3 separate regions of the Homo sapiens genome follow, and all the other regions are linked to region 3. Evidence: fine-mapped expression QTL. A gene starts in region 3. Each other region holds a variant in brackets. All regions are shown on one strand. Distances are from middle to middle. Region 1 has its middle 56 kb from the start of LINC03083. Region 2 overlaps RALGAPA2 (Ral GTPase activating protein catalytic subunit alpha 2). Region 3 holds the start of RALGAPA2 (Ral GTPase activating protein catalytic subunit alpha 2).

Evidence for each region. PIP is the estimated chance that this variant, and not a neighbour inherited with it, causes the effect.
Region 1: its variant is fine-mapped to the expression of RALGAPA2 in anterior cingulate cortex (GTEx, PIP above 0.99).
Region 2: its variant is fine-mapped to the expression of RALGAPA2 in whole blood (TOPMed, PIP above 0.99).

What each region holds. Positions count from the first base shown.
Region 1 is chr20:20,909,105-20,919,674 of GRCh38, forward strand. No RefSeq gene overlaps it. Among named protein-coding and RNA genes, the nearest start is that of LINC03083, 56 kb to the right of the region's middle. The variant T/C (reference allele first, on the strand shown) is at 6,242.
Region 2 is chr20:20,671,119-20,681,688 of GRCh38, forward strand. RALGAPA2 (Ral GTPase activating protein catalytic subunit alpha 2) reads right to left here. Exons shown (of 40, transcript NM_020343.4): 2 at 9,573-9,683; 3 at 5,118-5,170. Among named protein-coding and RNA genes, the nearest start is that of RALGAPA2, 36 kb to the right of the region's middle. The variant C/T (reference allele first, on the strand shown) is at 5,845.
Region 3 is chr20:20,707,109-20,717,678 of GRCh38, forward strand. RALGAPA2 (Ral GTPase activating protein catalytic subunit alpha 2) reads right to left here and starts at 5,536. Exons shown (of 40, transcript NM_020343.4): 1 at 5,267-5,536. The coding sequence starts at 5,372. RefSeq lists a silencer at 5,427-5,686 and enhancers at 5,678-5,972, 5,797-5,996.

The DNA of each region.
Region 1 (10,570 bases), 200 kb after region 3:
TCCAGAAACCCAGACCCACACCTCAGAGAAAGGGGAGCTGAGGACTGAACTGTAATCACTGTTCTTTCTTCCGAATCAGAAAATCTTTGAATCCACCTATGACCTGTGGACGTCCCTGCTTCGAGATGTCCTGCCTCTTTTAGGTCAAACCAAGGTATAGCATTTATTCATGACTTTGCCTGTGACCTCTGCCTCCCTGCCTTTAAAAGCTCTTACCTGTAAGCCATCCAGGAGGTCAGGTCTTAAGCATGAGCTGCCCGATTCTCCTTGCTTGGTGCCCTGAAATAAATGCCTCACATTCTCTCGCTGCAATCCTGATGTCACTGTTCAGCTTTGCATGCAGGAGTGTGGGCCCAAGTTCAGTTCAGGAACATAACCGACAGCTTCCCTAATTTTTGTCCAACTTAGGACCAATCAGAAAAAGCCAAATATGTTCCCCTAACCAATCACATAGAATGCCTTGCTGCTGTTGTAGGAAAACCCGGGTTCTTGTCACACGGCCGGGAAAGATTAGGCTTGAAGACACTTTGAAGGATGAGGGGGAATGGAATTTACTGGGCGAAAAGGAAAAAGAAACACACACACACACACACACACACACACACACACACACACACACACACACAAAACAAAGAGAGATGAGGTTCTGCTAATAGGCTCTCCACTTCAACGACTGAATCTCAGGTTACTACCCAGGAACAGGGAAGGCCCAGCTCCTCCCTGCTGCAAACTGTGCGAACTTCCCGAGGTCCCACCCCTCCTCCCAGTACGCAGGTGGGCATTACTCAGAAAGAATCAGTCCGGAAAAGGGCGGGATCCATCAGGGACCTGCAGTCCAGTTTTTCAGCCTTCAGGCTGCTTTAGGCTTGAAGGCACGGTTTGGCGAGGGGTTGAGCAGGGAAGGGAAAGGGGGAGGAGAAGGGAAGCCGGGAGAGGGGAGCGGGGGCCCTTGCCTGCCTCCTGTCCGTATCACTGCTAGTTAGCCGGTTTCCATGCTCCCTATGCTGATGACCTCCAATCAAGGCACATCTGAAGACTTCTCTTCTATCATATGGCTTTCCAACTCCCCTACCTGCCTTTGAGTATCTGCAAATACAAGTGATAGTGGCCGACTCCCTTGCAATGGCAAGCTCTGAATAAATGGTCTTTCCTTGTTCTCATTTGGGTAATACATGTTTATTTCCACACAATTCATATAGAAAATGCAAGTGGCCAATAAACATGAGGGGAAAAAGCTCAACTGTAACTAGTTTTTTAAAAAATGAGAATGAAATCAACAATGAACTTTTTTTGCCTGATTTGGAGGGGCAGTTTGCAGGTATTAAGCAAAAGGGGAAAATGTGCATGCCCTTAAACCTAGTAATTCCAATTCTAGCAATTAATTTTGCAGAAATTGTCTCATAAATGAACAAGGTTAATGTACAAAGATGCTCACTGTCTAATAATTTACACAGACTAAATGTCCAAAGGACGAATGAATAAAATATGGGACATGTACACAGTGGAATTCTGTGAGACTATTCAAAGAATAAAATGGCTGGGATAGATAGATGGTAGTGAAAAGACTCAATAATATGCACGTGTGCCATTTTGTCAACATGCGTGTGTGCTCGGGTACATCCCTTGGTTGTTTTACACAATGCAAGAGTGGGTCATCCCAGAAGTGGGGCTGCACAATTGGAGAGAGCTTTTGCTTTTCACTTTTCTTCATTGTTCACGTTTTTATGATGATCATGTACTACCTTGGTAATGAAAAAATTAAAATGAAAAGAATCAGCTGGGAAATGCCGTGGTTCGCATGAAATGTGGTCCTGAGAAGATGTTATTCACTCTATCACCTATTTTCTCACTTCTCCTGGTATTGTGGTTGAGTTATGCATAATAGGCATGGGCATTGATAACAGCTTTGATTCCTGGAACAATAGCCGAGATAATGAGGAGACCACTTCATTGACAATGCCCAGCCACGCCTTGTCAGAGACAAGACAAACATCGGTGCAGGTGTTGGAACAATCAAGTCTCATTTATCTGCTATTGTCCAAGAATGAGCTCATCGAGGCTAGTGAATTTTCCAAAATAATAGAAGCTTATCAATCCTTTAAAGGGCCTTTTTATTTTTTAGTTTAACCATTTTTTAGGGTAATTATTCCTAAATGGATTTCACAGCTCCTGCCTTCTTAAAGAGCGTCCAGTTGATGTGGACAGGAGACAGGAAAATACTGGGTAGAAGAGGGCGGTTCCCCGGCAAAGGCTCCACCCTCCAGCCCGAAGACCTGTGGCCCTAAATGAGGACAGGCATTTCTGTTTTCGCGCCCAAAAAGTTGCCTTTTGGGGGCCCGCCGCACCCCCTGTCCTGCACCCATATAAGCCCTGAAACCCAGGACCCAGAAGCAGACCAGCAAGCCAGCCGACCAGCAAATGGACCGCGGAATGACTCATTAGGGAAAGGGAGAAGAGGAGGAACATCTGAAGGCCGAGAGGAGTTGGGCTGAGGTCGCTCGGAGAGGAGTCTGGGCTGAGCAGCCCAAGTCCAGGGGAGGATCACCTTCCCACTACATCCCCACTTCCGGCTCCACATCCATCCCACTGAGGGCCACCTCCACCACTCAATAAAACCTCAGCAAAGCTGAAAGAGCATTTAAACATTGGGGTTGCAGGCAACCAAGACCAGACACTACCACAGGGCCAGAGCCCAAAGCGCTTGCCCTGGCCTCTATACCTGTGGATCTGCGTGCTTCTTCTCCCACAAGGGCTTTGAACCGGTGAGCCACATCCCTGTCTCACGTCCTGTGAGGGGAATCAGGGAACACTCCCGTTTCACAGTGGCCACATAAGAACCCATCCCTGATGACTTGGGATTATGGTGATGACTCCGGACCCCTGAGCTCTGACCCCTTTCAGGCCACTGAAGTGGGTGGGGAAGCTTGCCGGTACTTTGAATCACCGCTGATCACTGTGATTTTTGATATATTTATGATTGGACATTGCTGCTACTTCTGTTACTGTCAGTCAGCCTTTAAAAGTAATCTACTTATGGGACCTTACCCTGGCTGAGAGATCTGATACAAAAAAAAAGTGAATTTATCCCAAAGCTAGCTTGGGGGAAGGGACACAAAGCATCCTGCCTTTATATGCACCGCTGCACCTTGAGAGCAGAAAGTGAGCAGATTTATTTATTTATTTATTTATTTCATTTGTTTGTTTTTGAGACAAGGTCTCACTCTGTCACCAGGCTGGAGTGCAGTGATGTGATCATAGCTCACTGCCACCTCGACCTCCTGGGCTCAGTTGATCCTCCCACCTCAGCCTCCTGAGAAAGGGGGCACTTCTGTAAGGCAAGGGAGGAAATGAGCAAGGACAGAGGTCCCCTGCTAGCTCAGTGTCTGATCTATCAGACTGCTGAGTTGGAGCCTTCCTGGGCAGAAGTAAGTTGTAAAAGTGGCCAAGCGGGCATGCTTTCGATAAGCCCTCCAAGTGGATGAAGGTTCCGAGGATGGAAGTTCCAAGACAACACCCTGGTGGTGAAAGTTCCGTGGGGGCATGCTTTGGTCTGCAAACCGACTGTCACCTCTCTAGGAGAGATGTGTCTTGGAGCATGTAGTTGGAAGAACTTGCCCTGTAGGGAATGTCTGATGAAGGTGAAGTGAAAGAGAGGGGAAAAAATAATTAAACCACCTCTAGAAAAATGAGCGTACTCGGTTACAATTCGATGCTCCAGTGGGGCCAGAATAAAGATGTGGGTGAGCCAGGTTCCCTGGCAGGTGGCTCTGGGAAACACTGTGAGAGGTCTGGAAGGAGAAGAAAAGGGAAAGCAGCAGCCCAGGGAGCGCTGACCAGCAGCTGTGGGCAACAGAAACACACAATCCCACTGTGGATATCTATGAATCTAAACCATTTGTTCTAAACCCCTTTTAGAAAAGAATCAAATTTTCCTTTAGAGAAGAAGTGGAATAAGAGAAGGACATGAAGTAAAAATGAGCTGTGTTGTGAGAACACATAAACAGAACCGGGTGAAATGGTTGTGCTGAGAAGGTGACCTGGGCCCCCAGCTGAGTGGAGCAGTCAGCGCTGGAGAGAGCAGAGAGAGTAGGGCTGGCTTCTATAGCCACCAGCACACTTGTAAAGCCAGCCATCCCAGAGCAGGATACACGTCTCCTTGCTATATTAGGTAATTCCAGGGTCTGGGGAATAATAGCCCACGTTAAGGACAGGATAGAACTAGAGGTGACCAGTACTTGGACCCCCTTATGCCCCGGTTGTCATGCCTTCCCCCTGAACCTCAATTCCGTCATCAAGAAAATGGGAGATAATAGCTTTTAGACGCCTACTATATTATAGGAAATCACATGTAAAATTATGTAACAGATCACCCTCTATCCTTTCTAATCAAGTGCCTTTTCCTTCCTGACATGAGACAATAACTGGTCAAGACTTCAAAATCTGGGTTATAAATAAGATATCTGGCATAAAGAGTTTCTCTTTTATTCTTCTTATGTATTTTTCTACTCTTGGACACAAGTCATAGCATTGCAATGTCTTTTATCTTTTCAATCTTACTCGTGGTTTCTCCAAATATGCCAACATGTGCTTGCAGAATCTCTCCTTTGACAACAATAATGTGGAGCTGAACACTCATGACTGCATTAGTGACTTTTAATTAACTCCACCTTAAGTGTGTCTGAGGACCTCCCTAATTTTCTCGAAAGCTCCTTTAACTTCTCAGCAGCCCGGGGTTTGTCATAACCCCATTAGCCACGTGGGTGTATCTGCATGAGACTCTCCCATCTTTACCTACCTAGTGAGCCACTGTGATGAAGGGGGGACATGCTTGGCTGGCCCTACAACTCACCATGGCAGTAAGTGATATTTAGTCAAGTTGTTCTTGCCATCCCCTTCCAAATTTCAAGCTCTTAAAAAACATGAGAACTCTCAAGTGCTTGTTGACTTGAATGCAATAATAATGTGGCCCTTGGTGAGACCACATCAGTGCCCCTTACATTGACCTAAAAGGAGATAAGGATTTTCTGTTTGTGAGGCAACGTTCTTGATATGAGATCTGTAAACCTGCAGTTTCTGCCTTATGAAAACATCACGCAAGCTCTGATGGCATGTCGTCCTCCTCTGGATAGATCTTTGGGCTTTGTGAGGCCTCCCCTCCTTTTTTTTTTAGATGGAGTCTCACTCTGTCATCCAGGCTGGAGTACAGTGGTGCTATCTCAGCTCACTACAGCCTCTGCCTCCTAGGTTTAAGTGATTCTCCTGCCTCAGCCTCCCGAGTAGCTGAGACTACAGGTATGTGCCACCACACCTGCCTAATTTTTATATTTTTAGTAGAGACAGGGTTTTACCACGTTGGCGAGGCCAGTCTCGAACTCCTAACCTCAAGTGATCCACCTGCCTAGGTCTCCCAAATTGCTGGGATTACAAGTGTGAGCTATCGTGCCTGGCCAAGGCCATTAGAACTCAATCTTGGTCCCCTGAGTTTTCTCTAAACTTCAGGATGTCTTCCCAACTCATTACCATGCTAGAAAGTGTACAACACTGTCAAATAGAGTTGCATCTGGCAAAGGGGTAATTATAGTTTTCCTTTCTCATCCTGGCATCACTTACCAAGTGATCATTGTCTTAGCAACTTTGAGTGAAGGCATTTATCCAAGTGTCTTGTTTTGGTTTCCTCCAAAAGAGAACCCTGAGATGAGAACCTGGAAGTCAGTAATTTATTTGGGAAGTGATTCCAGGAAGTACTGTGTGGAAGCAAGGAAGTGAGGAAAGGGAAAGAATCAGTACAGGGTGCTCTGGGAAGACTAATTCTGTGAGCAACTGGAGTCCAATCCCGCTGAGACCTCTGGGAAGCCATCTCAAAAACACACTTTAGAGTTGTCCCACATGAGGATGCTGTGGCACTCATTCGTCAACCTCCATCTATTATTGGTTGAGGGATGCTTCTCAGAGCATAAACTTTCCGGCACTTCCAGCCTGACCACCTTGTAGGTGAAGAATGTCCAAAGACCAGAGAAAGTCCCCTGGAAGACAGAGACTCAGGTGTTTGAGGTAGAAAATAATCAGCCTAAACAAGAAGAGTTCATTCAAGGAATAGGTGACATTTGGGGTGGGACAGTAGGATGTGGGCCGAGCATTAACATCATCTGCTACACAAACCAACAGTGGATATCAAGATAAACCATTCACTTTGACTCTTATATAATCCTTCTGATAACTAAATGATTTGTTTGTGAAAGAT[T/C]TGATGAGTCAATGAGTAGTCTTAGACCATGGAAATAGCAGCAGATGTTAGCCTCAGAACAGAAAGCCTAGAAAAACTAGGACATAGTCCAAAATTGAGAGGAATGAGAAACCAGTCTTAAAGTTGGAAAACCTCATTAATCAAAGACCAAAGTAAAAGAGTCCTATGCAAAGCTGGAAGTGAAGGTGTAACCAGCACTGAAGGGTCAGGACAATACTGGGGCAGAACCATGCAGGCAGATAAGAAAAATGGTGAGCTACTTTTTAAATTTCTATTACTCTCTGTCTTTTCCCCTGGAAAGAGAAAACATTCTTGAAAAATAAGGAGGGCTTTGCATGTTTGTTTCAAGAGCAGCACTTAGTGGTGGGAGAAGTACTCCTCTTCATTCTCAGCAGCTCTGCAGGGGAGGACCCAGGCAAAATAAAAGAAGGGAGAAACCACATTCGTGAGGCCTGAGAAAAGACACAAAGATGGAAAAGGAAAATTGGCCTATCATTGAGGGTGGTATTCCTGGAAACAAGTTTCCAGGGAAGACGGAGAAAATGGGGTCACTGGCACAGAGGGAGAAATTAACAGTGACAAGTCTGCACTAGAAATCCAAGCCTGCTTCTCTCTCTTTTCCTTGTCATTGCCTTACAACACAACTCCTGATGAACACAAGGTGCCAATTGGCCACATTTATACCACATGGTCTGCCATCACAGATACAGATGACTGGCATAAAATGAATCATTCTATTGGCTGGAATGACTCAATCAGATTTTCTCTCACAGAAATTTGAACTAAGAGATCCAGGAAGTCTAGTTTGGGAAGGTCTAGCATAAGGACTGTAAGGTCATTTAGCTCTGCTAGCAGTAACATACAACAGGGACATGCACAGATGTAGAGGCAAGGGTGACATCAGAGAAAATGGCTAGGTAAGGATCTCTGAAAGTTCAGGCTTCTATGAAAGCAATGAAAAAATTGGCAAAATTTGGCAGAATTGACTTTTTCAGAACTTGGAAACTAACCAAAAGCTTGTAGCATCCCTGTGAGGATTTAAAAATATGACTGAATCTTGATAAGAACAGATTGTGGCATTTTAACTTACTCTAGTCCCATCCTCCACTTCTCAGCTTAGTGGTAGCCTTGAAAAATCAGTCTGTATTCCTGGTACCAGAGGGAGCAAAATGGACTTTGTTTCCAAATAAGTGTCTTATTTTACTGGTAGTTCTCTGGAAGTCCCTCATTCAGAAGGCTTCTTTATTTGACTTCATTTGAACTTATCCAGTGATTAAAACCTTTGAAAGGAAAAAGGAGGAGGATGGCATTTGTCAAATGTTTTAACATCACAGCTGACTGGGGTGATGGATAACAGTTAGGGCAAACAATGGAATAATCAAAAAATCTAAAAGACAAACCTGAGGCATGAGATGTCCATAGGGGCTTTGAAAAGTTTCAACATGTTACTGGGAATCTAAAAGGCCACATGCATGCCCAGGGCTGGGTGCAGGTCTGAGCATTCTCAAGAAAGACCTGAGAAGGCTCTAAGTGCTCACCTCTGGCTGTCCTTGAGGTTCTACACAAATAGGAAGTGAAGACTAAGGTAGAGTTGCTGAGAGATGAAGGCATGTATCAATACACATACAGAGGCCCCAGGCAAAAACTTGGAGATTTATTAGCTCCAGATATTTAAGGCAATCTCTGCGAATCATTAACCTACCACTAAGCTAACTGTGTGGAGACTTCAGTGGCCACTCATGACTAAGATACAGACTTCACATATTCAGAAAAGTTATTAAACAAACAAACAACAACTACAATAATCAGCAAACATCCCTGAGGAGGAAGGAGAATTTGATTTTCAGTTTCTATATTATATATTTGAAATGTCTAGTTTTTGACAACAAACATGAGTCACACAAAGAGACAAGAAGTATGACCTATACATAGGAAAAAACATCAGTAGAAACTGCCCCAGAGGCAGCACAAACACTTGGTTTATGGGACTTAAGACAAATATCTAAATCAGCTATTTTAAATATGTTCAAAGAGCCAAAATATGGGGATGATATCTCAACAAACAGAAAGTATCAACAAAAATATAGAAATCACAAAAGAAACCAAATAGAAATTCTTGAGTTAAAATGTACCATGATTGAAATAATAAATTTACAAGACAGACTTAATGGCATATTTGAGCAGGCTAAAGAAGGAATCAGTGAATCTCAGGATAGGTTGAGATTTTCTAGTCTGAGAAGCAGAAATAAAAAAGAATGAAGAAAAATGAACAGAGCCTTAGAGACCTTTGGGATACCACCAAGCATACAAATATACACATAATAGAAGCCCCAGAAGGAGTGGAGAGAGAAAAGGGAGAAATGTTGATAATTGAAAAAATAATGGTGAAAACTTATGAAATTTGATGAAGAACTTTAATCTACATATCCAAAGAGCCTAATAAACTCCAAGCAAGATAAACTCAAAGATATGACATCTGGATACATAAGAATCAAACTGTCAGAAGCCAAAAGCAAAGAGAAGCTCTTGAAATTAGCAAGACAGAAGCAACTCATCAAGTACAAAGAATCCTCAATAATATTATCAGCTGATTTCTCATTAAAAAGTCATGGAGGGCAGAAGGCTGTGGGAAGATATAATCAAAGTGCTCACAGAAAAAAAATGTCAACTAAGAATTCTATATCTGGCACATTATCTTTCAAAAATGAAGGAGAAATTAAGACATTCTAAGATAAACAAAACAGAGAGTTCGTTGCTAGCACACCTGTCTTACGTGAAATACTAGCAGGAGTCCTTAAGACTGCAACAAAAGGTCTCTAGGCAACAGCTAAAATTCATATGAAGAAAATAAAGAGCACTAGCAAAGGGAATTATATAGGTAACTCTAAAAGAGTATGTACTGTATTTTTGTTTGTAACTTTTTTTCTACCTTATTTAAAAGACAACTTCATAATGCAATAATTATACACTTAAGTTGATGGACACACATGTGTAAAGATATATTTATGACAATAACAGCCTAAAGGGGGTAAGATGGAGCTACATAGGAACAAAGTTTTTGTATACTATTGAAATTAAGTTGCTATTAATCCAAATTAGATTGATGTAAATTAAGATGTTAGTGGTAATTCACAGCGTAAGCAATAAGAAAATAACTCAGAAGTATATAGTAAAAGAAACAAGGGAATTAAAATGGTACACTAGAAAATATCTATTTAACACAAAGGAAGGGAGTTATAGAGGAATTGAACAACAACAAAAAACAAAACCATATAAAACAAATGGAAAACAAATAGCAAATTGGCAGATGTAAATCCTATCATAGCAGTGAGGATTAAATGTAAATAGATTAATCTCCCCAATCAAAAGTTAGAGATGGATAGAATGTATTAAAAAACAAACTTAACCCAAGTATATTGTATTGTCTACAAGAGACATGCTTTATCTTCAAAAACACAAAAAGGTTGGAAGTAAAAGATAGGGAGAATGGAAAAATATGTGCCATGCAAGACTGAAAGCTTAGTCTCTAAGATCAAGAATAAGACAAGGATGTCCACGTTCACTACTTCTATTCAACGTTGTACTGGAGGGTCTAGCCAGGGCAATTAGGCAACAAAAATACATAAAAGTCTTCCATATTGGAAAGGAAGAAGTAAAACTATAGTTGAACATGACATAATCTTATATATAGAAAACCCTGAAGAATCCACACACACAAAATTAATAGCTAATAAATGAGTTCAGCAAGGTTGCAGAATATATGATAAAAATACAAAAATCAGTTATATTTCTATACATTAACAATGAATAATCCAAAAATGAAATTAAGACAATTTAATTTAAAATAGCACTGACATGAATAAAATATTTAGGAATAAATTTAACCGAAGAAATGCAAGACTTTTTCACTGAAAACCGTAAAACATTGTTTGAAAAAAGTTAAAGAAGACCTAAATAAATAGTAAGACATCCCATGTTCATAGACTGGAAGATTTAATATTGGTAAGATGAACAATTGTTCAGATGACAATACTCCCCCTTGATCTATTGATTAAACGCAATCTCTACCAAAATTTCAAATGCCACTTTTACAGAAATGGATGAGCTCATTCTAAAATTCATATGAAATGGCAAGGGACCCAGAACAGCCAAAATAATCATGAAAAAGAACAACATTGTAGGACTCATACATCCTGATTTTAAAACTTACTACAAACCTACAGTAATCAAGATAATGTGGTACTGGTATAGGATAGACATGTAGATCAATGAAATAGAATTGAGAGCCCAGAAATAAAGCCGTACATCTATGATCAATTGCTTTCCAGC
Region 2 (10,570 bases), 36 kb before region 3:
GACCATGACCTGGACTGGCTGGTGGCCTTCACTGCACATCACTTACTTTATCAGAATACTGTAATGTCTCCAATACTCTACATCTAAAAACTACTGTTTCCTTTTCCAAGGTTCCCTTTCAGTGCATCCCTGACTTACAAGGCAGACAGCAGCTCTCTTTACATACTCCTCTTTCATGCCTTCTTATCTCTTACCTCTATGCTTTCTTCCAAGCCATTTCTTATTTATAGAATATCTCTACATGGTATCGCTTTTGTGATTTAACACATCTTATTAATTCCACCTCTTCTCAAGGGAGCCTTTCCTAATTATTTACAAAGTGGTAAGTATTCACTTCCAAACCCTTATAAACTATCTCTTTACAAGCTTTACAGGGCACTATCCTACAAAGCAGCAACGAAGTTACTTAGTACCCAGAATGAAACATACAAATTACAACCTACCTTCTAAAGCCAGAGACAGAGGGAACATAAGCATAAACAAAAGTAATGCAAGTTTATTATTCACTCATATTTACCATGCAAAATGAAAGTTTTATGAAGCCTTGAACAATATATATTTGTTCTATTATACAGGCAACTAATCCTCTGTAAATGGTAATGTATCAGTATTAACACCCTCCCTAGTCTAGAATTTAAGAACATGAAGAGAAAGTATCAAAACTTCTGTGAGAGGGATAGGTCTAGAGTCTCTGAAGGGCTTTCCTGCTGCAGGCCAATGGATCCATGACAACAAATGTAATTCTTAAAACATTGCTGGGCTTTGAAGAACACAGAGAAACTAACAAGGGACTAAAAAATGGTGGGGGAAGAAGGAGGAGCAAAGAGGGAAGAAGAAAGGAGGCAGAAGACAAGTAAGCCAAAACCTGATCTGTAAGCAACATGCAAAAGAAAAAACTGCAGAATGCCAAGGAGCTGATGCCAACACCAGCGCTAGGATTTACAGGTGACTATCCCCTCCAGCCCCCAGTTCCCAGCTATGGTAAGTTTAGGGAACTGAACCTGAATTTCCATTCATAAACCAGAACCCTCAAATGGAGCTAAAGTGCTCTCAATCAAGAGCATTCCCAGACTCCCGGCAAAAGCAAAGACAAATCCTCTGGGAGAAACCAGGATTAACAAATGTGAAATCTGTGGTCATTCAGTACCACTCTCAAAATCAAATATCACAAAATATGCAAAAAAAGAAGCCACTGTGAATGAGAGGCAGCTGAAATAACCAGCATAATTAGACAAACACTTAAGCTACTAGGATTATCATCTACAAAATATGAAATATTACACAGTAAATGTTTAATAAAATAAAAGATGTCTAAAAATGAACGAGGATCAAGAGACAATCGAAAGCAACCAGCCACATAAGAATGCCAAACCAAAAAAGCTGTTAAAAACATGAAAAAAATCATTGAAATGTACAGCTCAATAGATTGGTAAAGTAGCAGATTTGTTCCAAACGAAGGGAGTTAGTGAACTGGAAGAAACAACTGAAGAGACTTCCCAGAATGCAACACAAACAGATTGCGGGAGGAGAAAATAAAAGCAAGCTTAAGAAACAGAGAGGATAGATCAACAAGTTTAAGTAAGAATCCTAGAAAGTATGGCCAGAATGAACAGAAACTTATCAATATTTGAGAAGACAATAGCTAAGAATGTTAGAGAACTATAAAACATATGAATCCAGAGACTTGAGAAACATACATATACCAAGCAAGATAAGAAATCTTCAACTAGATATTTTGTAATTAAACTGTAGAACAACAGACACAAAAGATCTTAAAAGAAGCAGCTGGGTGCAGTAGCTCACGCCTTGTAATCCCAATACTTTGGGAGGCTGAGGTGGGCGGATCACAAGGTCAAGAGATCAAGACCATCCTGGCTAACACGGTGAAAACCCGTCTCTACTAAAAATACAAAAAAATTAGCTGGGTGTGGTGGCGGGCACCTGTAGTCCCAGTTACCTGGGAGGCTGAGGCAGGAGAATGGCATGAACCCGGGAGGCGGAGCTTGCAGTGAGCTGAGATCGCACCACTGAACTCCAGCCTGGGCGACAGAGAAAGACTCCATCTTTAAAAAAATAAAAAATAAAAATAAAAATAAAAATAAAATTTAAAAAAATGAAAAAAAAGAAGCCAGAAAGAAAAGACATTTAAAGGAACAACAATTACACCAAAAACAGAGTTTAAAGCTGCTACAATGGCAACTAGAAGATAGTAAAAATGTGGCACAAACACTACTACTACTACTATTACCAACACCACCACCACTACTACTAGGGTGTGTAATATAAAAACTGCTTGAAGACAATAAAGACCAAGCTAATGGAGATAAAACTGAAGGGATTATGACTCTCCAAAGAGATGCTTCTTTGCCAATACATTTTAAAACTTTGGTGATAAGAACAAATCCTCAGAATTCTTCAAATTCTTAGAAAAATATATAACTTACCAAACTTGAATCAAGAAAAAAAAACCAGAAAATATGAATAATACTAAAACAAGTCTAAAACTATCAAAGAAATTGAATGAGTGGTTAAAATCTTCACATAAGTAAAAAAAGCACCCCAGTTGCAGGTGGTTTTATAGGAAAGGTAAAAAAAACATTTCAATGACAGCTCATTCCAATCTTATAGAACTATGTTATATAACAGAGAAAGAAGAAATGCTTGACAACAGGTTTTATAACCATTACCACAGGACCAGTCAAAAACAACATGAGTATGAGAAAGAAAAACTGAGGCCAACCTCAGCTGTGAACAGAGATCCAAAAATGCAAACAAAATATTAGTCCAGGCTGGGTGCAGTGCCTCATGCCTATAATCCCACAACTTCAGGAGGCCAAGGCAGGAAGATCACTTGAGCCCTGGAGTTTGAGACCAGCCTAGACAACATAGGGAGACCCTATGTCTACAACAAATTAAAAAGAAAAAAAATTAGCTGGGCATCGTGATGCACACGTGTAGTCCCACCTACTCAGGAGGCTGAGGCAGGAGGATCACTTGAGCCCAGGAGGTCAAGGCTACAGTGAGCTATGTTCACACCACTGTACTCCAGCCTGGGCAATACCCTGACTCAAATAATAATAATAATAATAATAATAATAGTAATAGTAATTAGTCCATCCAAAAATCTAGAACTGTAATTCACCATATTAATACTCAAGAAGAATCATTATCATCTCAATCAAGTTTTTTCAAGAAAAAATTTAAAAACTTCAAAACCCATCTATGATTTTTTAAATAAATCTCAAACTAGGAATAGAAACAAAGTTATTTAATTTGATAGAGAATCTACCAAAAAGTTACAGAGAATATTACTCTTAATATTTCACATTAACAAAACTCTCTTTAGATCAAAAACAAGATGACCCTTTATCACTTCCATTTACCAATGTACTGGAAGGCTGACTCAGGGCGGAAAGCAGACCAACTGGCAAGTATGTCCACTCCTTACTCATAGACAATCTGTCTACCAAGAAAACAAAAAACCTGTAGACAAAATGTAGGAATTAAACAAGTCACATATATTTACTTAATCCAGCAGTGGGACTGAATAAACATGAACTAAATTTAAAAACATGGATAAATCTTAGAATTAATGTTGAGGGTAAAAAGCATGTCGAAGGTGATTATGTACCATAGGAGATCATTTCTATTACACTCAAAACAAAACAAAACCACACAAGAAATTATTTAAGGGTACAAATATGTGTGGCAAAGCCATTTTTTAAAAGAAAGAGAATGATAAAATGCAGGGGAGTTACTGTCACAGAGGTGAAAAAGGATGGTGGAAGAGCACCTAAGTAGCTTTTAGTTCCTAAAATGGTGAAGGGGGAGGGTGTCAAGAGTATGTGCTTTATTACCATGCTTCCTAACTTACATATGTTATAGATTCTTTAACCATTACATAAATAATATAATTAAGTTGATAAAATAGTACAAACAAATGATGGTCAGTAGATACATATTTAAGTAACACACTTAATTAAAGCTCCTGTTAAAAACAACTCATTTCACAGGTTTCATTCAAAGGACGGTAAACACAGGAAACATAATAACCACTACAGAATATGTGTATCAACATATGTGTATCAATAGCGAATCAACATCTGTACTCTGGGAAAGGAGTATAGCTCTCAAAGGAGAGAAAGGGGAACCAGGGCTATTGAGCACTAGCCATGAAGCCAAGTCCTGGGCAGGAAGTTTCCCATATCTTGTTTTTTTTCCATAAACTCAGAAAGCCCCTCACCATAAGGCCCTGGAGAACTCTCCTACTGTAGGAGATCTTTCCTACAGTGCTTTGCCCTCCAGCCAGCTCTGCACCTGCTCACATTAGGCCTTTCCTTTACAGCTATAAAAGTTTATCTTCTCACACTAACCTAAGCCTACACCTCTCAAACCACAAATAATTTCTAAAAAACCAACAATTAACTTTCGGAACCTATAATTCAGTTCTGAGTGTGTTCTCCAGGTACCCGTAATCTGGCCACTTATCTAATACATTTGGACAAGAAAGACTTTAAGCTTAATAAGTCAAAAACCACACCCAAACATTGTTTCAACTTTGAAGATATGATCAATGCACACAGATATACAGATGCATAAAGATCATAACCTCACTAGTAGAAAAATATATATCAAAAAAAGTTTTTGCATGTCAGATTTATATATATATGTATTTATATATATGAGACGAATCATCTCTAATGTTAGAGTATAGGAAATTTACATAAGACTTACATATCAGTTTATATAACATTTTTGGGTTTTTAAATTTTTTTATTTTTTACAGGGCAGTTTCTCAGTGTGAATATATGACCTTTTGGAGAGCAATTCAGCAATATCTGCTACTATTTAAGATGTGTGTACTCCTCCATCTAATAATTTCACATCTAGGTACCCATACAGGAAAAACTATCACACATGCTTGCAAAAAAAGAAAATCACGAGAAAATTATTTGTAGCACAGTTTGTAAAAGTGGGAGGGTGGGAGGAAGGAAGGAAAGAAAAAAATATATGTCCACCAACAGCCATTTTTATTTGTCTTCAAATAAAATTAAAGATCAAAAATACTTTATTTCCAACAAGAATTATAAAAGCTAAATAAACTCATCAAAACTTACTTCAAAAAGGAAGAGGATGGAGTCCAGCTCCTCCCTTTGTGACTTATTATTCCCTGGAATATTAAAAAATAATTAGTTATCATGACATCATTTAAACTTCAGGACACTACAAATTATGCTAAAAGGCAGCTTAAAACTAGTAAGCCTCAACATACATTCATTTATTCAAAAAATAGCAAGAGGCAGTATGGAGAACACATTAGGATTGCAAACAGACAACCGAGCCCGACTGCTCAGATCCACATCCAGCAGAGCTGCCCCTTGCTAGCTGTTTGAACACAGCTTCCATGTTTTCCAACTTGTTACCAAACTATGATGGGTAATTTATTCATTTCTCAACTAGTTACTTATTGGCTCAAATTGTGGCAGAATGCACAGCACAAACGAAAAATTTCTAAGTTGGTAATATAAAAAGTCATAGAGCAGATAACTATAAAAGTAGTATATCTTTTGGGGCAACTGCACACTGTCCTATTGATAATAACAACAGTAATAAAACCTACAACACCTGCAGCTGAGGTTACCATTTTCGGTCCTCTCTGTGTACCAAGCATCGTGCTAAGTGCTTGGCGCATATCATTTAATATAGGAATCAACAAACCTCTTCTGTAAAGGGTCAGACAATAAATATTTTAGGCTTTGCAGGCCTCTCTTACAAACACTCAAATCTGCTGTTACAGTACAAAATCAGCCACAGACAATACATAAATAATGGATATGGCTTGTC[C/T]AATAAAACGTTATTTATAAAACAGGCAGCTATAAGCTGTGGACCCCTGATCTAACTGAATCCCCACAGCTCAATGAAGTAGATATCATTCATTCATTCATTCATTGAATAAATACTACAGAATGTCTATATGCCAGGGATTATTCTAGGCCCTGAGGATACAGGAGTGAGCAAAACAGACAACAATCCCTGCCCCCAACAATTTAATATTCTGGCAGGAGGGGGCATTCTATAAATGAGTGAGAAAAACAAGAAGGAATGCAGACACAGAAGCCAAAAAAGATGGTATGCAATTTTGACTGGGGAAGTCAGAGAACATCTCTCTGGTAAGGTAACATCTGAGAAAAGATCCTTTGAGGTTAGGAAGCAAGCCATATGGAAATGTGGGGGTTTGGAAGCAAGCCATACGGAAATTTAGGGGAGGTGTATTCCAGGCAGAGGAACTGAACAATGCAAAGTCCGTGTAGCTCAACATGTCTGGCTTAGTCAGAAAACAGTCAGAGGCCCTTAAGGCTGGAGCACACAAGCGGGACAGTTGGAGAAGCTGAGGTTGGAGAGTAGGTGAGGCAAAAGAAGGCAGATTAGGTGGAGCCTGAGACCACTGTAATAACAGGGAATGAGAACCCGTTTGAAACTTTACAGCAGCCAAGAATCATGATTTGACCCATTTTTTTTTTTTTTTTTTTTTTTTTTTTTTTTGAGATGGAGTCTCACTCTGTCACCCAGGCTGGAGTGCAGTGGCGCGATCTCGGCTCACTGCAAGCTCCGCCTCCTGGGTTCACTCCATTCTCCTGCCTCAGCCTCCCAAGTAGCTGGGACTACAGGCGCCTGCCACCACACCCGGCTAATTTTTTTTTGTATTTTTAGTAGAGACAGGGTGTCACCATGTTAACCAGGATGGTCTTGATCTCCTGACCTCGTGATCTGCCCTCCTCGGCCTCCCAAAGTGCTGGGATTACAGGTGTGAGCCACCGCGCCTGACTCATATTTTTAAAGGAGGACTCCAGCTGCTCTTTTGACAAGAAACTATGGGATGGGAGAGGGCACAAGTGTGGAGGTGGGAGACCATTTCTGCAGCTAATGCTATAATCCAGGTGAGGATATCAGGAGTTTCAGTGTTACCAGTGTAGGCAATGAGAACAGGCCGGTGATTCTGGATGTATTTTGAAGATAGAGCCAATAACTCCGGAGTTTTGGCCTGAATAACTGCAAAGGCTCAAGTTATCACAAGATTATTTATTTCATTATTCCTTGTAGGCATTTTCTTTTATTCTTTTTTAAGGTACAGTGTCTTCCCTGCACTCCAATCGAACACAGATTATACTAAAAGCAAAAGACTTCAAAAATCTCACTATTTTTATTGGTTCTTCACTATGATTCTTTGCAGTAGATTGCAAGAATGGCCACAATCAAAGACCACCACAGTGCCTCACCCTGAATTCCTTCCACTCCATGCTTGACAACTGCCTGTTCTACAGGAGCAATCAGGGCATCTGACAAGGGGTCCCTTGATTTTTCCTCTCCACCTCAAAATGTCTCCATATCTACACTATCCCCTTATCTGCTCCTCCTTACATAGAAAGGTCACCTGTACGCTCCTCTCCATGTCTCTTCTTTTTCCTTGACCTGTCTCAACTCACTTCCCCCAACACCTGCACCATTAGTTATCTCCCCCTCCAGCTGACCCACTCCTCAATCTGCAAACAGGCCAATGCATTCCTCAATAACCTTCCCGTGACCAGGGTGAGATACAATCTGTGTCTTCACATCAAACTTTCTGAAAGGATATTCTCATGGGTCACCTTCAACAGCTCACCGCCCTGTGACTCCATGTCCATCTGTTTGGCTTCCGACCTGCTCCTCACCTAGAACCTTTCTCTCCGCACTCACTAACAACCACACTGATGAGCTCTTACTCCCCAGCCCAGCTGCACCTCATGCACCAATAGGCTGACTCTACATGCCTTCAATTCTCTCTCCCCTGGTCCTCTGTGACAAAACCCTTTCCTGGTACCCCTCCTACTACTCCATCGCTTTCCTTTGCATATACCCAATAAAATAAGGAATTATCTAAAAGTTCTGACCATCACTCTCTTTCTCTGTATATACTTTTTCCCTTGGCAATAACACGATTTCACCTCTTTTCTCCCAAGCTCCAGTCACCTATATTGTACTGTCCAGCCAACACCTACACCAAGGTATCCCCCATGCACCTCAAACACAGACTGCCCAAAGCCACTCTCACCCTCCTGCCTTCCAAATCTGGCTCCCCTCCAGGGTTCCTGCGCTAATGGCACCTCACAAAGCAGACTCAGTGTCCTGAAAGCATCTTTGACTTCTCCCTTTCCCTTATAACCAAGTCTCATAGATGGTAGACCCACTGAGACACAACACTTTTCTTTTCCCTTAACTACTGCCTCCCTGGATCAGGCATCACCATCCCTCAGATGAATGACAGCATCAGCCTTCCAATTGGTGTTCTTGCCTCTGGTTCAATCGCTACTTTACAAGATACTTGTGATAGTAACAAACACTTTCAAGAGCTCTAACCACCTCCAGAACAAAGTCCAAACTCCTTAGCCTAGAATTCAAGGCTCCTTGCAAGCATTATCTAATTTCCTGCAAATCTCTTTCACACACCTTTGCTGCAAGAAAAAAAAAATGCATTTCCCATACATGTCGTAAGAACAGCCCTACCTTTACTCATGTTCTCCCCTCCAGCAGCAGTGCCGCTCTCTTCCACCTGAAATCCTGCTGTCCTTCAAGGTCCATTCCCAAGGCCACCTCTTCCCCAAAGCCTCATCTATATACTCAGCAGGAAGTCATCTCTCCCACTTCCCAAGAACCACAGAATTCTGTCTAAATCTCTCTTACAGAACAACTGACTTTTTAACTTTTTTCACAGTTATTTATGCATATGGCTTATTTTTTAAATAAATGAATGACATCTACTTCATAGAGCTGTGGGGATTCAGATTCAGCCCACAGACTACATGAAAATGAAAGAAGATGGTGACAGCAGCTACTACTTACTGACCATGGACTATGTGTCAAACTCTGTCCTAAAATGCTAGGATACCTGTGAACCTGTTTAACGCTGACAGGAGGAAGCCAGCTCAGAGACAGATTAATTTGCCCAAGGAGAAACAGCTAGAAGGGTGGGGCCAGGTTCCCAACCCAGTCTGGCTCCCCAGGCTACACTATCCTACCACTTAGGTGACAGGATGTATAATGTATACAGAACAGAATGTATAATGTGACCTTGTTGGTTTGATTTTCAAAGAATATAGTCACAAACATATATAAACATAATACATTAATAATATATCTGGAAGGAGATGCAGGAAATCTTTAATAGTGGTTGCCTCTGCAAGCAGGGCAAAACAGACACTTGAGTGTTCATTTCAGACCCTTTTATGGAATCTAAATTTTTTTAATAGTATGCATGTATTACTTTTCTTTCTTTTTCAGTAACTTACTCCTTTGAAAATCATGCTTTCTAAGGGTTCCTTCTGCTATTTTTGCTAGCCATGTGTTGTTCAATTAACATCCATATAAGTGAAAGCTCAAGAGAAACAAAGATGCCACCCTGTCCACCATGCTCTCACAGCTTTGCTAAAGGCTTGGCAAGAAAGAAAGCTTAAAAATGTATAATTTGTGGCTCATGATATATACAACTTATAAAAATGCCCGAATGTTTTTTAAAAAAAAACTACTGAAATGCTTACCTTTTAATTTCAAACTATTTTCCAGTGCTATAAAATTTTCATAGAAGATGAAATATATCTGAGAATAGTTGGTCTCAAAAAACTGCTTAAGATCATTTGCATCCACATTATCTGAAAAGAAAAAGTTTCCATTTATGACAATTCACTTTATAAAATCACAAGAATTTAGAAACAAACTTCTCAGAAAAGAAGGCAAGTACAACTAGTTTCATTCCCTTATAAGACAATACAAAACAAAACAGTATTCCTGTTTGTTTATTCTCCACCTAAGAGAGTTCTTACTTGAACCTTGAGTACCACCCACCACTCAGCCCTGCTCAGGAGACCGTGGAGCCAATTCAGGGAGGTCGGAGCTGACAGGAGCCAGCAACAACGGACCAGCTAGAAGGCTGGAGGTAAGCAGGGGCAGGTCTGGGGAGGGACATGACTTCCTGTTACGGGATGAGGAAGTAGAGGTTCATGGAGGAGGCAGTTTTTGACACAGGCCGTGAAGAGGGATGGGTTTGTACCTCTGAAAAACAACTTTGCTGGTGGAGCTCCTAAATGGACCAATCTCTGCTCCCTCCCCACCAACATAACTCTCTGGGCATGAAAAGAGAAACCAGCTCAAGTGAACTAGCACATGCTCCCCAACCACAAGCTTCTAGATGACCTGCCCCCACTCATGTATGGACACTGTAGGATCTACCATGTGTTCCTAGAGTTGCCCCTCTTGTACTAGACAGTTTTGCTAAACCACAGACTGCGGATAGATAGGCGGGGGTGTGGGGAACTTAGCACAGTGACAACTCCCACTGGGGCTGATTAGCAATACAGCCAGTTCTTCCAAGGGCCCCGATCAGCCAGGGTAAAACCTCACAATGCTGGGGGCTCAAAGTAGTTATCCACTGTCAACACACCTTTGTACATTTTCCTCAGTAAACAAGGTTGTTTGTGCCATTTACAGAGTACTGACCAAGGAGTTGGCACTTTGGGAGAATACACTAGCATCTGAGGAA
Region 3 (10,570 bases):
CTTCCCAATTGTTCTCACTCTGTAGATGACACTCCTATTATCCCAAATACCTACCACCAATTATCAAATTATAAAAAGGTGTTTATTGGTAGTCAGACTACAGTGAAAATGGCAGCCTCAATCCTTGCTGCTAGCAGGGCCAATGGAGCAACACTTAGAAAAGCACTGTGAAACAAGTCATCGAATGTTCAAACCCAGCAATCTTACTTCAATAAAATCTAAGGAAATATCGAAAAAGCTGCTTCTCAAGATGTTTACTGCAGTATTACTTCTATCAGGAAAAGGGAAGGAAGAAAAAAAAGGAAAGAAGGAAGGAGAGAAAAGAACAAAATTTCACAATCCAGGAAATGGTAAGCTAAATTATGGGATATGGTCTCAACAAATGTTTGTACTTAAAAATGAGAGGAACAAAACATCAAAAATGCTAATGATAAAATAAAGACAACAGTTACAACTGTAAGTCAATTTGTTCCTACCTAGAGCAACATGAGCAACATATGCACAAAAGGAACTATACGACAATGCTATGTTTTGCTCTGTTTGTATATACAGCATTTGTGAGAGACGGTTCTCTACTCTCTGGTCCAAACCCAGGTCACTTGATTTGACCTGAGTCTGGCTTCTGATCCCCCAGCCAGCCTCAGCTTCTGCTTGTCAGGCTACTGTTCCACTCCTTCCCCAGGAACCTACCCTACCCCTGGCCTATGCAGGACACTGGGGACATCCTCTGGGCAAGGGTCCTCAGTGCCCAACACCACACCTCGCCATGTTACTTACCATCACTGTCATGTTACTTCTGCCACCAGCTCTTCCATCTTCCCCTGGTTGTAATTGACCTTCCCCTCTACTTTCCCAGATTCTAACCTTGCTATGTCCAGTGTGCAGCCACTAGTGACATATGGCTAATGAGCACTTGAAAAACAGCTAGTGTGAACTGATATGTGCTGTAAGTATACAATATACACTGAATTTCAAAAACTTCATATGAAAAAAAGATGTAAAAAATACTGATAGCATTTTATATTGATTACCTGCAGATATAATATATATTAAATACATGGAGTTAAATAAAATGCACTATTAAAATTAATTTCACCTGATTCTTTTTACTTTTTAACATGTGGTCACTAAAAAAGATTAAAATTGCACATGTGGCTTACATTATATCTCTATTGGACAGAACTAGTCTAACCATTCTTTGGAACCCAGCGTAAGTAAAACGTTGATATGATTTGGCTGTGTCCCCATCCAAATCTCACCTGGAATTGTAATAATCCCCATATGTCAAGGGCCGGGTGGAGATAATTGAATCATGAGGGTGGCTTCCCCCATACTGTTCTCATGGTAGTGAATGAATCTCACAAGATCTGATGGTTTTATAAATGGGATTTCCCCTGCACAAGCTCTCTTGCCTGCCACCATGTAAGACATGACTTTGCTTCTCATTCACCTTCTGCCATGATTGTGAGGCCTCCCGAGGCATGTGGAACTGTGAGTCAATTAAACCTCCTTCCTTTATAAATTACCCAGTCTCAGGTATGTCTTTATTAGCAGAGTGAGAACAGACTACTACAAATCTCCTTAAAGATGCCCCTATTTTTATGACATTCTTAATTATCTCTTTTGTTCTCTGAAATCCTATAATGGATTCTACCATATACCTGACCATCTAATTACATAACACACCATAAATTTACTATTATTTTGTATCTATTCTTCTCACTACATCAATGCCAGTTCTATATCCTAATTTAGGACTCATAGTAAGCACTCAACTTTTAATTAGAATCTGGCCAGGCATGGTGGCTTATGCCTGTAAGCCCAGCACTTTGGGAGGCTGAAGTGGGAGGATCGTTTGAGTCTGTGAGCTCAAGACCAGCCTGGGCAACATGGCAAAACCCCGTCTTCTACAAAAAATACAAAAATCTGGCCGGACATGGTGGCTCACACCTGTAATCCCAGCTCTTTGGGAGGCCGAGTCGGGCAGATCACCTGAAGCCAGGAGTTCAAGACCAGCCTGGCCAACACGGTGAACCCCTGTCTCTACTAAAAATACAAAAATTAGCCAGGCATGGTGGTACACACCTGTAATCCCAGCCACTCAGGAGGCTGAGGCATGAGAATTGCTTGAGCCCAGGAGGCGGAGGTTGCAGTGAGCCAAGACGGCACCACTGCACTCCAGCGTGGGTAACAGAGTGAGACTCCATCTCAAAAAAAAAAAATACAAAAATGAGCCTAGTGTGGTGGTACATGCCTGTAGCCCCAGCTACTCCAGGGGCTGAGGTGGGAGATTACTCGAGCCAGGGAGGCCAAGGCTGCAGCAGTTGAGGCAAGGTCAAACTACTGTACTCCAACGTGGACAACAGAGCAAAGATCCTGTTAAAAAAAAGACATGGAATCTTTGCTGGAGCAATATGGTAATACACAGGGTTTTTTGGTTTTTGTTTTGTCAACAGTGTAGGAAGAACTGGAAGTCACAGGACCTAACAGCTCTTCGTTCTTCCTCTAACATAAGTAAACCGTCTGCTACATGGCTTGATACGTGTCAAGCCTGCCTGTGCCTCAGCTTACCCCTCTGTAAAATAAAGTTAATCATACCAGACCAGTCTATAGCCAGGTGAAAGTATCTACATCCAAATTGGAGTTATTACCATGATACTAAGAAATACTCTACTTCCACAGCTAATTTTATGTTTCTCACCCAGTTGTTTTAAATACAGACTACTTTTTAGGAAAAGAGAACAAATTCATCACTATTATCAAAAATAAGAAAGACGGAGAAAAATTACCTATCAAAATACTGGTCCTATCCTATTAATGGTGGGAGATATGTAATGGGAAAGAAACTGTTAAAGGCCTACTTCAAGCTGAAGTCATTTATTCATCATACTCACAATAATCCTTTAAAAAGCAAACATTACCATACCCATTTTACAGAGCAAAGAAACCGAGGTTCAGAGACAGGCTACGTAACTAGCTCAAGTCATGAAGCTGCAGGCGGCAGGGACAGGCTGCAAATACCCAAGTAAGTGGCATAATCTTTGCATACTTAAAAAAAAACTTTATTATCACTTGAAGATAAAATATATGAAAAGCAAAAGTGTTATATAAATACACACATAAAAATACAATAGTAATTACTATTCATTTCCTTCAAATAGTTTCCTTAATCTTGGCTTAATTCCTAACTTTCAGTTCAAGAGGCCTTTGTTTTCTAAGTAGACTTTTTTTCGAGTAGCAATGAAATAGAATATGTGATTAGGTAGGAACTAGTGCATTACGTACTACTTTTTAAGTCTTTAATAAATCACAGGAGCAAGTGAAAGTTTACATTAAATATTATGACTAGAATTCCTCAGACACATTTTACAAAAATCTAGTCCCTACAAAGATCACAGTAATAAACAAAGCAAACTGGGCCACTCCACTAGTAAGTATATCAACAAAAAACATACACCTAAGGAAATATAAAAGAACCTCTCCATGTTACAAAACTGAGGTCATGATGAGTTCAGTGAAATGATAAAAGAAAGTTCCCTAAAATAAGACCTACACCTTAGAGTGAAACTACAATTTTACAAACTTGAAAAGAATCAACTTTCTCAGAATGGGAACAATGTACTGTGTGCTAAGAAATAACCTGATCTAGGTTTACTTGATTCTGCCTTTATAAAATGTAGCCAACTTAATCTTGCAGACCTGGACAGAACAAAAATTTAAACGCTAAAGCACAGAAAAAGGCTCAAAGTATCAAACGCTTTAAAACACAGCTCAACTCTCCTTTATCAAAAATGTCCCTGCAGTAGGTGTTAATCAGTCACTACCAGGAACTCCACACAATGCAACCTGTGTATTGTGCAACCTGTGCGTGCATGGTATCTACAGGAAGTAGAAAATTCAGTTTACCAAGAACGCCACACTTCACTCTCCACACTTCACTCTCAAAAGTCTTGAAAACGAATCCCTGTAACAGCAACTAATTTACATTTCATTTCAAACTGAACAAGTCAGTGTAACCTCAAGGTATGTGAGATTGTGAATAACTTCACTTGGCAAAATCAGGTGTGGTTTGGTTTGGCTTGGGTTCTTCTCCCCCTCAGAGGTAGAATATAAATAGAAATAATCAGCAACTTCTGATCTCATGAACAAGATCTTTATTTAAAATCTTCACACGTTAAATCATTTTATGCAATATTCTTTCAAGTGACAGACACATTAGCACTAGGCGATTTTTGTGAATTTTGGGACTAAAAGACACCTGGAAGAAACATAAGGTGTTCTTTCCTTCGCCACCAAATACACAGGTAAGTGTGTCTATAGATAGCAAAGGTGTTTTCATCCCAAAGAAAAGTTAAGACTTAGGATGTAAAAAAATACAGAAAACAAAACATAGCCTAGGCGAACCAGCTACAGATCACATGCAGCAGGTGACAGGAAGCCTTGTGGACACCTCACACCCACAGGGGCGAGCTTCATCACAGGTCAACTCCAAGCCCACCTGAGCTCCTCAGAACCTCCACCTGGCAGGCCATAAACCAGAAGGTGGCAGACAGCATCACTGTCATGCCGGTAATAAAGGAGAAGCAGCCTCCCTGAACCCAAGAAAACCACCCCTCTCTCCAAGCAGGAAGAGAAGGCCCCTTCACACCAAGGACACAAAGAAACTGAAGCAGCCAGACCCAAAATAAAAATTAAATTTAAAAAGCAGCATGGGAAGACAGATGACAAATCTGTGCTGGGATCGCCTGGAATCTCGGTCTATATGGGGGTCTCACACTCAAAAGTAAAAATAAAATTTAAAAGGGGGATGACAGAGATGAGAGCCCAATTAGGTCTGTGCTGGGTTCACTTGGGGTCTCGGTCTACTTAGGGTCTCAGACTCAAAAATAAAATTTTAAAAATGAAAGGGGGAGGTGACAGTTCAATGTGTGCACGTGATGACCACTTGGGATCCAGTTCACTTGCTGGGAGGACAGGGGACAGGTACCTCTGTGCCCGGCCTCCAGGTTCTCCGGGAGCGCAGGCGCCCAGCGAGAATCTGGGCTAAGTTTAACTCGAGGGCGACGGGAGCAGTGCCCGAGGGCCAGGCTGCGGCTTTCTGGAAACAAAGCCCCGGGGGTCCAAGCCCAGATCCAGGGAAGGGGGTCGGACGCCCACCCATCCCCCTCCCCAGCCTCCCAGCCACCGACCCCTGCACAGAGGAGCGCCCTCCCGGCAGGTGCCCCTAACCCGGCGCCCCGACCCCCGCGCCCGGCGCGCGCCTCACCCAGCAGCGCCCGCAGGTGCTTCAGGCGGGTCAGCACGTCCTTCTTCGGGTCCAGCACCTTCTGGGTGGACTTCTTCACATCCCCGTGGCTCCTTCGGGAGAACATCCCGCGGCAGGAAGCCCGGGCCCCGCCGGCGGGGCAGTAGGCGCCTGCGCCACGCGAATCAAAGCATAGGGTCGAGGCCGGCGCGTGTCGCGCGGGCCACTCGCCGCCCCCAGCCCCGCTGCTGCCGCCGCCGCCGCCGCCGCCGCCGCCTCAGCTGTGTCTCCAGGAAGGAGGGGCGGGCCGGTCACGGCGAGGGGCGGGGCAGGAAGGCGGTGTCGACGGGGAACCGAAGGCCCCGCCCCGCGGGAGGTGCCGGCCGGCCCCTTGGGCGCTACGCACGCGCACACAGGCCGAACTCTCCTGGCGGGACACTAGCCCGTCCGCGCCAAAACCTAGCGGGGACGCGCTCAGAGGGCCGAGAAGGCGCCTCGAATCACAAAGGAGCTTCTCTCACGCACACGTTGTACTACAAGTCCCGAGATGCACCGCGAGACAGTCCTCCAATCAGGCTGGCGGTCTTCGGCACGATGGGAGTCAGTGGGCCGGCATTGGGCACGTCGCCCCGCCCTGCCGCGGGCCGCAAGTGCTCCTGGGAAATGAAGTTCTCCAGCAGGCGACGCGCTGCGACCTCTTTTCCAGGGTCGCAGAAGCGCAGGGCGGCCTCTGTCCGTCCCCTGCCCCGGCAGCCTAGATCGCCCGTGGTTTCACTCTCCCTCCTGCGCGCCCACCCCATTTTCCTCTAGTGCAACGTGAACCACACACGCCCAAAAATCTCAGTAAGAAAAGTGTCAAGGCTTTTCAAATGCAAACTATTTTTAGGTTTAGCTTCTGGATTCACACAAGGGAGCGAGTCGAAGCCCCTCTGACCGTGCCGAAATCGCAGCTCTAATTTCACACTAAAATGAGTTGCTTTGGCACTAGGGAAGAGCGTGCCCCGGTGAGGAGTTCAGCCGGCCCCTAGGTTCCTGGAACCCAACCTCACTTGGGGTATGGAGGTCGCTCGCTCAGAGGGCTCCTTGGGATCTTGCCTCTTTGTAGGAAGGGTGCGTTCTCTGTTGTGCAAGCCACATGGCGATCCAGTAGCAGAACCAGAAATAGAACCTGAGGGATCTGACTCAGGCCTGTATACTTTTTAAAGCCAGGCGCTTATTCCCTGGGGCAAGACTTTGAGCTGAAAGATGGTCAGGAGATTTCTTACACTGTAGGATTGTATAGTGGCATCCGAATCCTGCAAGTTTTGACATCCTTTCAGCTTTTTCAGCAAGTACTTAAGGTAGAATCACGTGGTTTCCATCCAAATTGGGACAACACAACTGTCTTTTTCTCCTCTAGCTGAACTGTAACTTGAGGGAAGAGACAAGGATTTACACGCCTTTGTATCCCCATCCCTCAGCACAGTATTTGGCCCATAGGGTCACTCAATAAAAGTTTATTAAATGAAATACAATAAAAAGCTAAAGTAGTCCTACATATTTCAACCAGGCAGGCGAAAAGGAAAAAATAAATAAATAAACTCACAGTTTTAGAGCGTCTCTCTATTTTTAGATTTGTGTAATATTCCTTTGTATAGACACATTCATACAAAGGAATATTACTCAGCAATAAAAAAGAACAGACTACTGATAAACCCAATAACATGGATCACTCTCAGACCCGGAGATGAAAGCCCCATGCTCAAGATGATGGCAGAGCGGCCCTACCAGCCTGAGTCCCCAGATGATAACAGATCAGGACCACAAACTTCTAAAAGTGTAACAAGAGAGCAAAATAATGTCTTATCTTAAGTCAAGGCATTTTGAGAGTCTTCGTTACAGCAATTGAGCTTGTACCTGATTACACATAGTAAACCACAATGTTCACTGTCCAATTCCTTTAGGAGAAGATACTTTTCCTTACACTGATTGAAAAAATAGAATATACTTGTCTTAGGAAACTCCATTTTTTTAATTGCAAAGCAAGCTGCCATCATCATCAAACATTTATTGAGCACCTGCAATGTGTAAGGCATGATTCTAAACCCTGGAGATAAAAGATGTATAAGGTGCATCCTCCTGACCTCCAATGCTTCCAATCCAGTTAAGGAGGCTGAGCGATTAGATACATGTGGGAATAAATGACAGTGTACAGTGAACATGTGATACTATCAAGCTTGGTAATGCCAGAAACAGGCATCTGTGCATATAAATTCATCGCACCCATCATATCTAGCCTTTACCCAGTAATGAAAATGTAGAACTCCAATTCTTCTCTTAAAAAGGAAGAAACATATAGTATTATTATGTTGGTACTTTTTCACCCACTTGCATATTCCATATGGCTCTTCTTATTTTCTGTTGTTCTTTCTAAACTCGTTCCTGCTGGGCTGTGAACTCTTTGAGGGCTTCACTTGCTTTGCACTGAATTCTTTATCCCTGGAGTTATAGAGTGCCGAGTGTTATGCAGACATTAAGTGTTGTTGAATAAATGTCCTACAGTAATCAGCAAATAAGAATAATGAGATCAAAAGTTTAAAACTTGCAATGCAAATTAAAACTACTCTGAAATATCATTTGAATTAGAAAAAACAAGCAAACAAAAAACCTCTACAGAGACAAGGTGTGATAACACACTCTAGTCTGGTGGCAGAGCTATAGAAAACATAGCTGGTAGAAATGTTAGATGCTACAACTCTTATGGAAGGAAATTTGGCAAAAATAAATATTTGCCTTTTGACCCAGAATTTCAATTTCTTTTTTTCTTTTTTCTTTTTCTTTTTTTTTTTTTTTTTTTTGAGATGAAGTCTGGCTCTGTCACCCAGGCTGGAGTGCAGTGGAGCTATCTCGCCAGGTCCAAACGATTCTCCTGCCTCAGCCTCCCGATTAGCCGGGATTACAGGCGTGCGCAACCACGACTGGCTAATTTTTTTGTATTTTTAGTGGAGAGGGGGTTTTGTCATGTTGGCCAGGCTGGTCTTGAACATCTGACCTCAGGTGATCCATGGGCTTTGGCCTCCCATGTTTTGTTGTTTTTTTTTTTTTTTGACAGTCTTGCTCTGTCCCCCAGGCTGGAGTGCAGTGGTGTGATTTCAGCTCACTGCAACTTCTGCCTATCAGGTTCAAGCGATTCTCCTGCCTCAGCCTCCTGAGTAGCTGGAATTACAGGCATGTGCCACCATGCCTGGCTAATTTTTGTATTTTTAGTAGAGACAGAGTTTCACCATGTTGGCCAGGCTGCTCTTGAACGCCTGACCTCAAGTGATCCACGGGCCTCAGCCTCCCAGAATGCTGGGATTACAGGTGTGAACCACCACACCCAGCCAGAATTTTGACTTCTAGGAATCTACCCTGCAGATATTCTAATATATAACACTGGAAGGATTTAAAAAAAAACCTTAACATTAATGCCTACCTAAGTGGGATAGAGGATGAGGTGGAAAGGACTCAGTGTCCTCTCTGAGTATATCTTTTTATATTTTTTTCATTTTTGAACCATGTAAATGTTTTCCATATTCAAAAATTGAAACAGAAAAAGACAAGCCTGAAAATAAAAAATAAATGGAAAAAATAAAACTAACAATATATGTAATTGGTAGGATAACTCTATGGAGAAATAAATATAAAACCATGCATGGAAGTTTATTCCTTTCACCACTATTTATAATAGCCAATGTAGTGGGTTGAACAGTGCCCACCCTTCCCCCCAAAAAGATATGTCTATGTCCTAATCCCTGAAAACTGTGACTGAGACTTTATTTGGCAGAAGGATCTTTGCAAATATAATAAGATCCTCAGTTATCTGGGTAGACCCTAAATCCAATGACAAATGTGCTTGTAAGAAACAAAAGAAGTGAAAACATAGAAACAAAGGAGAAGGGCACATGAAGACCAAGGTAGAGATTGAGGTTATGGAGCCACAAACGAAAAGACCCTTATAGCCAAGAGAAACTGGAAGAGGCAAGAAAGGATTCTCCCTTGGAGTCTTCCAGAGGAAGCCCAACACCTTGATTTCAGACTTCAGGATTCCAGAACCGTGAGAAAATAAATTTCTGTTGTTTTAAGCCACGCAATTTGTGGTAATCTGTTGCAGCCACTCTAGAAAACGAGTATGACCAGATACCAGAGAGAACCCTGTGATTGTCTAACAAGGTACTTATATACACATACATCTATAAGTGGCTAATTTAATCCAGTTCATCCACACAGTGTAGCACTATGGAGTACTATGCAGCTGTTTAAAAATAATGGGAAAATTTCGCGTGTACTGACTTGACATAATTTTCCAGATACGTTGTTAAATATAAAAGGAACAGAATATTAAAAATTTTTTTTTCAAAAAGAAACACTGGAAGGATAAATAAAAAGCTAACATCAATTCCTACCTAAGTGGGATGGAGGATGAGGTGGAAAGGAATGAAACAGGGTCCTCTCTGAGTATACCTTTTTATATTTTTTTCACTTTTGAACCATATAAATGTTTTACATATTCAAAAATTAAAATAGAAAAAGACAAACCTGAAAATCAAAAATAAATGAAAAAATAAACCCAACCGTATATGTAATTGGTAGCATAACTATATAGAGAAAATAATTATTTCAAGTGATTTTTGAAAACAGTATTCTGATTGTACCTCCTTAGAGGGATGTATTCTAAGGGCAAAAAGATCTGCAAAGAATTAATAATTATTATTAAGAACCAAGATTTTCAGTGTAAGAGAAAGGAGATACAAAAATATCACATCAAAGAAAATGTGAAAACTCTGTAATACTAGATTTTACTTCAAATATCCATTTGAACTCATAATTTAAAAATACAGCATGTGTTGGCCAGGCGTGGTGGCTCACGCCTGTAATCCCAGCACTTTGGAAGGCCAAGGCAGGTGGCTGAGACTATCCTGGGCAAGATGGTGAAACCCTGTCTTTACTACAAATGCAAAAATTAGCTGGGCGTGGTGATGCATGCCTGTAATCTCAGCTACTGGGGAGACTGAGGCAGGAGAATCGTTTGAACCAGGGAGTTGGAGGTTGCAGTAAGCCGAGATGGCACCACTGCACTCAGTCTGGTGACAAAGCGAGACTCCATCTCAAAAAAAAAAAAAAAAAAAACTAAACAAAAACAAACAAACAAATGTCATACATGAATGAAATGAATGAATAAAAAGAAGGCCATACATTCTTTTCTATTTGCTGGACGCAGTGGCCCACACCTGTAACCCCAGCACTTTGGGAGGCCGAGGCAGACGGATCACTTGAGGTCAGGAGTTCGAGATCAGCCTGGCCAAC